Regions from separate parts of the Homo sapiens genome. Here region 1 is linked to region 2. A link means that fine-mapping ties the variant in region 2 to the expression of a gene that starts in the linked region. Tissue or cell type: whole blood. Region 2 holds a variant in brackets; the other region holds the start of a gene. All regions are shown on one strand. Distances are between the middles of the regions.

Region 1 (5,000 bases), 63 kb after region 2:
TATTGAGTTCAGTCACATGCTGTTCAGGTTTGTGGTCCAGGTGCAATACGTCATACCATATAGCCTAGGTGTGTAGTAGGCTATGCCATCTAGGTTTCTGGAAGTACACTCTATGATGCTCACGTGACAAAATCAACTAAGAACACATTTCTCAGAATGTATACCCATTGTTAAGCAATACATGACTGTGTGTCTGTAGGCCATATATATTAATATATATATAGTCATTTGAGATCAGTCTATATACAGTGTTTTGTACCCTGTATTTTCTTTAATAATATATAATGAATACATTTTCCCCATTACTAGGTACTGAAAGACATAATTTTAAATGACTACATAGTACTCGTATGAAAATGCTATTATTTACTTAACCTCTGTGAGACTTTTTGGCTGTTCCGTTTCCCCAGGATTCTAAACATCACTGTGTCTTCTTACATGCATTCTTCCACACTTCTTGGTTGTTGCCTTAGGATATGTTACTTTAGGTAGAATTCCTGGGCTGCGCTGAAGAATAGAAACATTTTAAAGATTCACATTCTTGCTTGTTTTGCTGTTCGCCTCTTTAGGTACCATATTTTTTAGGTGTACAAAATTTATACACCTGATTTTAAGTTCCTGGGTATCAGGGTTCATACTTCTCTTAATTTTGTATTTCCTTGCAGTCCTACTTACGGGTGGCAGGGCTCCTCAAGGGATGGGTGTACCAATGACAACCATGAAAGTATTCTAAGGTATTCCCTAGGACTCCGAGAAAAAACATGCATCTTTCCAAAGGGAAAGAAGGGATTAGATGTTAGCATCCTACTCCATGTCAGATCCAGAGCACCCGGGGGAACTGAAGTTCGTGGATGGAATACAATGACACCTCAGAAAAGAAATACTCCTTTGGTGGAGGCCTTTAAACTTTTGGGGGCTCATTTTGTCTGCCTAACTCGCCCAGCCAGGGCGCAAAATGGCCACTTAGGAGCATGAGTGAGGTGCCAGCGTCCCTACAATCTAAGGAGCAGGGAGTCATCACTGGGGTGGCTGCCGCTCTACCTGTTTGCGACTGTAATAAAACACCTTCTGGAGGCCGAGGGACCCGCTTCATCCTGACTTTTCCCCTCAGTAGCTAGAGAGAAGGCGGCTGAAAAGAGGAGACAGAACTGGTGCTGAGTGGGCCTGGAGCTTCCGAGGCAAGGGAAAGAGGGAGAGGGCTGCAGTTCAAAGTCCAGACGCGCTTTCCTTCCATTCTCTTCCCTTCCTCCCTGCCCTCTGCGCCCCATTTTCCCCTTATCGTGGGTGGGGGCTTCTGATTTGCTGCGGATCCCAGAGATGGTGGGGTTCAGCCTCCGCACTGCTTAGCTAAGTTCCCAGCCCAGCAGTCCCAGCCGGGCTGTTTTCGGTAACCAAAGCACTAGGAATTAACCTCTCTCTCGGCCTCTTCCCTTTCGGTTTCCTTCTTGGGTTGGCTGGAAACTTCACCCAGACACCGAAGCAGCTCTGCCCGGCCTTTTGGCACAGGCCACCGGCCGAGGCCCCACGGGGCGCTCTCCTTCCCCAGGTGCCCCCGACTCCGATCCTGCCCTCAGGGGCTCGCCCGGGACGCGTTTTCCCAGAGGCCGCCGGGGCGGGGTGGGCTGGCTGGCGGGAAGAGGGGGCCGCGGCCCAGGCTCGCCCCGGCGCCGGCCCGGTGGGCACGCGGCCAGCCTCCGGCCCCGACTCGGTCCCTCCCGGCGCCCGCCCCAGCCGAGGCCCCCTCCCGGCCCCGCCGCCCGCCCGCGGGGGCGTGGGAGCGCCGCAGGAGCAGCTGGGACCCGGGCCGGGCCGACAGGCGGCGGCTGCGGCCTAGGGCTCCCGCGCGGCCACCGGCCTCTCCCCTCCCCCTCCCGGAAGCGCGGGGCGGGGTCCCCGGCCGGGCCGTGGGGGCGGGCGCGGGGGCCGGGCCGGGGCGGGACGCGCTCGGCGCTCGCGGGCTCGGCGGGCTGTGCGCGCCCACTCCGGCTCCAGCGGCCAGCGCGCGCGGGCCCAGGCCGCCCGGCTCCAGCCCAGCAGTAGCGGCAGCAGCGGCGGCGGCGGCAGTGCGCGCGAGGCCCTGCGCCCCCAGCAGCTCCTCCCTGGCGCCGTGCATGGAGACGCGGCCCGCCACCCGCCGCTGAGCCCCCGCCGCCCGGCCGGGACCCGCCAGGGCTGGGGTGGCCTCGGGCTCCGGCCGGCCCCGCCGCCCGAGGGCTGCGCGCGGCCCGCGGGCCTCGCCGCCCCGCGCGGATCGTCGCGGCCCGGCCGTCCCGTCCCAGGAAGTGGCCGTCCTGAGCGCCATGGCTCACTCCCCGGTGCAGTCGGGCCTGCCCGGCATGCAGGTAGGCGGGCGCGGGCCGCGGGGCCGGGATGCGCGACCGGGGCGGAAGCAGCAACTTGGCGGTATCCACACGGCGTCCCCCTACGCTCAGCCGGCCGGGGTCGCGCCGGAGCCTGGCTCCCCGCGCGCCCGGCTCGGCCGGGGGTCCGAGTCCGAGTCCCTGGGCGTCCCTGCCGGCTCCGGCGGCCGAGGTCTCCGGCGTGTGCGTGCAGGAGCCGTAGGAACCGCGGCCTGGGTCCGGATGTGGGGGTGCGGGCGCCTAGTCCTCCGCGCTCCCCTCGCCCCAACACTCTTCCGGAGCTGCAGGCCCTGGGTGGCCCTGTCCCCGGGAGAAGTGAGGTGGAGTGATGCCCTTGGAGGCCCCCGCCGGGTCCCGGGGCCCTGCGTGGTGGCCGGGTTGGCGGAGGGCCCCAGGACGCGTCCCCCAGGCTCGTCCCCCACCCCCGGGCAGGCGGGCGGGAGACCTGGGCAGGGCGGGGACGGGGAGCGCGCCTGGACTCGTCCGGGCCCGAGCGGAGTAGGCAGGGTGGAGTGGAGGAAGGTAACCGCGAGTTCCACTTGCAGTGGCTTTGCCCGGAGCCCCCGTGCACCTGCGGACCGGGGGAAAGTGCGAGTTGCAAACCTTCTGGAAGGAGGAATCCCTCGGACAGCCGCGCACCAGGGTCCCGGGCCCGGCCCCGGGACCCTGGACTTTCACTTTGAGACTTGGTTGCATTTACAGGAATTCTTCGCCCAGTAAACCTCTCTTTCGGTACTTGGTGACACCTTGGCCTACCAGTGACTTTTTGGGGAGTGGGAGAGGAGTTGAATTTCAAATTTACATGTATAAGTTAAAGGTTTTTTGTTGTTGTTGTTTTCGTTGTCGTTGCTTTTAGCCCTTTGAAAAACAAAGCTACCGTCCTTGGCTAACTCTTGTAAACTTTGTAGGCGCAGAAATGGTGGCAAAATGCTTAGGATGGAAATCTTAGGATGCAGTTAGGATATGTCATGAAAGTTTGCTCTGCCAGTTTAGCTGAGTGAACGTTAAGTGTTTGAAGAAAACCAAAAGCATCCAAGTAGATTACTGGTTGATTTACAGGTACCAACAGGCTCCTTCCCTGTGTCTTGAGGGCTGAGAAGCACAGAGCCCAGACCTGGGACTGCCTCTGGGGTCTGCTCGCCTCTTCCAGTGAGATCATCCCTCTCCCTTCTTTTTTTGAAACCGTAAAAAGAAAACTGGATTTCACTGTTCAGGTTTGAATTCTGGAAAAATAGGAACTCAAAGTTACCACTTTAATGGCAGCTAGAATTTTAGTCCAAGTGTGTGTGTGTGTATATGTGTGTGTGTGTGTGTGTGTGTATATATAAGCAGTATATATATGTGTGTATATATGTTTAAGCAGTAAATAAATATACATTTAAGCAGCAACAGTTAAGTTATTATCTTAAGAGTGACTGGGAAGATGCTTGAAGAATATTCTTTTGTCGACTCTCATTTAAGGAGCGTTGAATTTAGCATGCATTCAAAACCTAAACTTCTGCTGACTGCTGGGTAACAATCAGATGTGGTTTCTTGGTATTTTCTAAAGCCGCTTTGGTATGAATTTAGAGGTGTGTAGGTCAGAGTGAACTGGGTGAAAAAAGTAATTTCTTACTAGTCGAGCAAGAAAGGACTCTTGTAATGATTTAAAAAAAAAGTTTTATCAATATTTCCTTTAGGTTGATATTTATACCGTGTTCATCAGGTTGGAATCTAGCACAAATGCCTCACTTACTAGGTTAATTGGCCTTTGTGGATAGCGAATCAGTTTGAAAAGGTACTAAAGCCCCTTTGGCTGGTGCCGTGAAGTCAGTATCAGATGGTTACCAGGTGATATCTAGTATCTCACCTTTTCATTTTTATCCTCACTTTTTTTTTTGAGTGGGTCAGAATTCTTAAACCTTGGGAAAAGAAGATACATTTCCTTAATAACTTTGCCTCTCAACTATTATGTATCTGTTAGGTTGTGTTACATGGGAACTGTTTTTATTTTGTTTTCTCAGTATGAAAGATCTTAAGTGTTTCTCAGTGGAAAAGATGATCAGATTTTCAGCTGTTACAGTTTTACAGTTTTAGAGGTAGGTAAGTTGGCTTCTGCCAGTCATTCCTGTACCTAAGTACATCTACAGACTGTATGGTAACAGTGTATCATTTGGGGAAGAACATTCTTTTCTCCTCCCCCACCCCACAAAAGAAAAACAACAGCACATTTATTTTCTACTTCAAATTAGCAGTTGCTACTGCCCTGGGAGGCTTCCCTAAGAGTTGTTGCTGAAGATTCAATTAAAAACACACCTGCTTTCGACTGTTGTCTGCTAAATGGGAGGAGAGAAGTCCGTATCTCTTCTATGGCTTGCTCTGATAGGCCTCATAGCCCTCCCTTTTTCTTGTCTCCTGACCAGGGCTTATAAGGAGTTGGCTTAGAAAGACAGCAGAGTCTGTAATCTCAGCAGTTTGAGAGGCCGAAGTGGGCGGATCATGAGGTCAGGAGATCGAGACCATCCTGGCTAACATGGTGAAACCCTGTTTCTACTAAAAATCCAAAAAATTAGCTGGGCGTGGTGGCACACGCCTGTAATCCCAGCTACTCGGGAGGCTGAGGCAGGAGAATCACTTGAACCCGGGAGGCGGAGGTTGCGT
Region 2 (5,265 bases):
AGTCCCAGCTAGTCGGGAGGCTGAAGCAGGAGAATTGCTTGAACCCAGGAGGCGGAGATTGCAGTGAGCTGAGATCATGCCACTGCACTCCAGCCTAGGCAACAGAACGAGACTCCATTTCAAAAAAAGTATGAGAGTACCTGAATAATATGCCCATTTTGCAATAGTGCTACTTTTAAGTATACATATATATATATATATAGTGGTGTTTGTTTGTTTTTGAGACGGAGTCTCAATCTATTGCCCAGGCTGGAGTGCAATGGCGCTATCTCAACACTGTAACCTCCACCTCCTGGGTTCAAGTGATTCTCCTGCCTCAGCCTCCCGAGTAGCTGGGATTACAGGCGTGTCCCACCACGCCCGGCTAATTTTTGTATTTTTAGTAGAGACAGGGTTTCACCATGTTGACCAGGCTGGTCTCGAACTCCTGACCTCAGTTAAAACGCCTGCCTCGGCTTCCTAAAGTGCTGGAATTATAGGCGTGAGCCACCACGCCCGGCCTCAATTTTCTAAAATAAAGTTTCAGGACAATGACAGTGAGACAGGGGAAGAAAACATGAAGGAATTAAGTCCTAATTACTATGTATGCATTTTTTTTTTTTTTGACAGTAGGGAGAAACCTTTTACAGATAAGTTACAAACAAAGAAAAGGCAAATAAATAATTTTGTAAAAGAAATTTAACACATTTCGAGCAAGGTCTTTGCTATCATCATCTGTACAAACTTTTTTTTTTTTTTTTTTTTTTGAGATGGAATCTCTCTCTGTCGCCCAGGCTGGAGTGCAGTGGCACGATCTCGGCTCACTGCAACCTCCGCCTCCCAGGTTCAAGCGATTCTCGTGCCTCAGTCTCCCAAGTAGCTGGGACTACAGGCACCTGCCACCATGCCTGGCTAATTTTTGTATTTTTAATAGAAATGGGGTTTCGCCATTTTGGCCAGGCTGGTCTCGAGCTCCTGACCTCAGGTGATCCGCCCGCCTCAGCCTCCCAAAGTGCTGGGATTACAGGTATGAGCCACTGCGCCTGGCCAATGTATTATTTTTTAATGCGCTGTTGGATTCTGCTTGCTACAGTTATATTTAAGAGTTTTGCATTGATATTCATAAGTGAAATTGATCTATAGTTTTCTTTTTTTCTATGGTCTGGAATTAAGAGCATTGAAATTATCTGATCTTTAAAGTAGAAGGGAGTCCGAGTGGAGCGAGCGAGCCGAGTGGTCGTGCAGTCGCGTCTCGGAAACCGGTAGCGCTTTCAGCATGGCTGACCAACTGACTGGAGAGCAGATTGTAGAATTCAAATAAGCTTATTTACTATTTGACAAAGACGGTGATGGAACTATAACAACAAAGGAACTGGGAACAGAAATGAGGTCTCTTAGGCGGCATCCCACAGAAGCAGAGTTACAGGACATGATTTATGAAGTAGATGCTGATAGTAATGGCAGAGTTGGCTTCCCTGAATTTGTGACAATGAGGGCAAGAAAAATGAAAGACGCAGGCAGTGAAGAAGAAATGAGAGAAGCATTCCGTGTGTTTGATAAGGATGGCAATGGTTATATTAGTGCAGCAGAACTTCACCATGCGATGACAAACCTTGGAGAGAAGTTAACAGATGAAGAGGTTGACGAAATGATCAGGGAAGCAGATATTGATGGTGACGGTCAAGTAAACTGTGAAGAGTTTGCACAGGCTGGGCACGGTGGCTCACGCCTGTAATCCCAGCACTTTGGGATGCCAAGGTGGGCAGATCATTTGAGGTCAGGAGTTCGAGACCAGTCTGGCTAACATGGTGAAATGCCATCTCTACTAAAAATACAGAAATTATCCGGGCATGGTGGCACATGCCTGTGGTCCCAGCTACTTGGGAGGCTGAGGCAGGGGAATCGCTTGAACCCAGGAGGTGGAGGTTGCAGTGAGCCGAGATTGCACCACTGCACTCCAGCCTGGGTGACAGAGTGATACTCTGTCTCAAATAATAATAATAATAATAATAATGCATTATGTGACTGAATTTTGAGACCAGTTGTGTCTTATTCCACCAATTAACAATCATGATTACTAAATAAAAACATGTTTGTTTTTAAAACTTGTGTAAAATATACACAGAAAAGTACACAAATAATAATAGTAAAATTGGTAAATTTTCACAAATTGAACACACTCATGTAATGGGGCTCATATCAACAGACCAAGTGTTATCAGAAGCTCTCTCATGCCTCCTTTTGCTCTTATACCCCTTAGGGTATCTGCTGTCTTATATTCCTAACCCCATAGAGCAGTTTTGCTTATTTTTGAACTTTATATAAATGGACTCACACAGTATGCATTATTCTGTGTCTAGATTCTTTCACTTGACGTTATGCTTGTATGCTTGTGAGATTCATCCACAGTATTGTATGTAGTTACAGGTTGTTCATTCGTGTTT[G/T]TTGTTGTTGTTGTTGTTGTTATTGTTTTGAGATAGTGTCTTGCTCTGTTGCCCAGGCTGGAGTACAGTGGTGTGATCATGGCTCACTGCAACCTCAAACTCCTGAGCTCAAGCAATCCTCCTTCCTCAGCCTCCCAAGTAGCTGGGGCTACAGGCATGTGCCATTGCACTCACCTAATTTTTTTTTTTTTTTTGAGATGGAGTCTTGCTCTGTTGCCCAGGCTGGAGTGCAGTGGCATGATCTCGGCTCACTGAAACCTCTGTCTCCCGGATTCATGCCTCAGCCTCTCTAGTAGCTGGGATTACAGGCGCCCACCACTGCATCTAGCTAACATTTTTTTTTTTAGTAGAAACGGAGTTTAACCATGTTGGCTAGGCTGCTCTCGAACTCTCAACTTCAGGTGATTTGCCCGCCTTGGTCTCCCAAAGTGCTGGGATTACAGGCATGAGCCATTGCGCCTGGCCTAATTTTTTTTTTAACTTATCCAGAGTCGGGGTCTCACTGTGTTAAGCAAGCTAGTTCAAACACCTGGCCTCAAGCCATCCTTCCCCCTTGGCCTCCCAAAGTGCTGGGATTCAAGGTGCACCTGGCCTTTATTCTTAGTGGATATAGTTTTGTATACAGCAATGTGACTATACCATAATTTTTTTGTGTATTCTACTGGTGTGTGTGTGTGTGTGTGTGTGTGTGTGTGTGTGTGTGTGTGTGTGTGTGTTTGGTGTTTTTTTGAGATAGGGTCTTGCTCTGTTGCCCTGGCTTGAGTGCAGTGGTGTGACCACAGCTCACTGTAACCTCACACTGGGCTTATGCAGTCCTCTTGCCTTAGCCTCCTGAGCAGCTGGGACCACAGGAACACGTCGCCATGCCTGGCCAATTCTTTAAATGTTTTTGTAGAGACCAGGGCTCCCTATGTTGCCCAGGCTGGTATCAAACTTCTGGGCTCAAGCAACCCTCCAGCCTCAGCCTCCCAAAGTGCTGGGATTACGAGCATGGGCCACCACACCTGGCCCATTCCACTGTTGATGGAGAGTTAAGTAGCTTCCAATTCGGACTAGTCTCATAGTGCTGCTATGAATATTCTTGTGTATATCTTTTGTCAAACATAGCTGTGCATTTATCTTGAACATCTACTTAAGTATGTAATTGGCAGGTCATGGGATATGTACGGTAGCATTAGGTAGATATCACTAATTTTTCACATTGATTGTACCAATTTATATTCACAACAGCAGGGCGTAAACATTCTGTTTTTTTCATATCCTAACTAATACTCAGTATTTGTCCTTTTCCATTTAGCCATTGTGTTGAGTATGCAATAGTGTCACACTGGAACTTTAATTTGATTTTTATGATGTCTCATAAGATTGAGCATGTTTTTATATGTTTATTAGTTGTTCTTGAAATCGTACTTAAAATTTGCAGGACACTTGAACTTTAAGCCTCACTTCACATTAGTAAACACACTCTTTTTAAAACTGAATGTGGGCCAGGTGCAGTGGCTCACGCCTGTAATCCCAGCACTTTGGGACGCCAAGGCGGGTGGATCACTCGAGGTCCAGAGTGCAAGATTAGCTTGGCCAACATGGCGAAACCCCGTCTCTACTAAAAATACAAAAATTAGCTGGGTGTAGTGGCGGGTGCCTGTAATCCCAGCTACTTGGGAGGATGAGGCAGGAGAATCCCTTGAACCTGGGAAATGGAGATTGCAGTGAACTGAGATCGTACCACTGCACTCCAGCCTGGGAGACAGAGCAAGACTCCATCTCAAGAAAAAAAAATGAGTGTGGATACCTTTTGTATCCTTGAGGTAATATGACCCCCGTAGAGCCCTCACTCACATCATCCAGTGTGAGTGGAGTGCGATTAAAGAATGGAGTTCAATAATTAAAAAATTAATTTCAAAATAACTCAAGTTCTCATATAGCATTTCTCAGACACTATGAAAAGAAATACATAAACTACCATAATACATGGCTAAGTCTCTCCTTCTCACTCATCCAGGCCTCACAAATGTAGCTGCCCTAATATCTTTTTTTTTTTTTCTTTTTTGGGATGGAGTCTTGCTCTGTCTCCAGGCTGGAGTACAGTGGTGCAATCTCGGTTCACTGCAACTTCTGCCTCCTGGGTTCAAATGATTCTCCTCCCTCAGCCTCCCAAGTAGCTGGGACTACAGGCATGCGGCACCACACCCAGCTTATTTTTGTATTTTTATTAGAGATGGTGTTTCACCATGTTGGCCAGGATGGTCTCGATCTCCTGACCTCATGATCTGCCTGCCTCAGCCTCCCAAATGCCTCAGCTGGGATTACAAGCATGAGCCACCGTGCCCGGCCCATCATTTTTCCAAAAAACATAGGAAGGAAAGTTATAAAATAACTTTCAGTGGGAAAGCAATTTTTATCATTACTCAAAATAAAAAATGTAAGGATAATGCATCAATCATTTCTTAATGATACATTATCATTCATTAAGAAATGATTGATAGATTATCTTTAACAGGAACACCGCATGTTCTCACTTGTAAGTGAGAGCTAAATGGTGAGAACACATAGAAAAAAGAAGGGAACAACACACACTGGGTCCTCCTTGAGGGTGGAGGGTGAGAGGAGGGAGACGATCAGAAAAAATAACTATTGGATACTAGACTTAGGGCCTGGGTGATGAAACAATCTACATCAAACCCCATAACACAAGTTTACCTAGGTAACAAACCTGCACGTGTACCCCCAAAGCTAAAATAAAAGTTGAAAAGATTGGCCAGGCGTGGTGTCTCACACCTGTAATCCCAGCACTTTGGGAGGCCGAGGCGGCTGGATCACTTGAGGTCAAGAGTTTGAGACC

The links. PIP is the estimated chance that this variant, and not a neighbour inherited with it, causes the effect.
Region 1: it holds the start of STK24, and the variant in region 2 is fine-mapped to the expression of STK24 in whole blood (TOPMed, PIP above 0.99).

The regions. Positions count from the first base shown.
Region 1 is chr13:98,574,087-98,579,086 of GRCh38, reverse strand. It overlaps STK24 (serine/threonine kinase 24), which reads left to right and starts at 1,980. Exons shown (of 11, transcript NM_001032296.4): 1 at 1,980-2,342. The coding sequence starts at 2,301. It overlaps STK24-AS1 (STK24 antisense RNA 1), which reads right to left and starts at 1,832. Exons shown (of 1, transcript NR_046542.1): 1 at 246-1,832. RefSeq lists an enhancer at 1,267-1,456 and silencers at 1,547-1,696, 1,717-2,026, 2,077-2,946, 4,411-4,470.
Region 2 is chr13:98,637,230-98,642,494 of GRCh38, reverse strand. It overlaps the pseudogene CALM2P4. Among named protein-coding and RNA genes, the nearest start is that of STK24-AS1, 63 kb to the right of the region's middle. The variant G/T (reference allele first, on the strand shown) is at 2,424.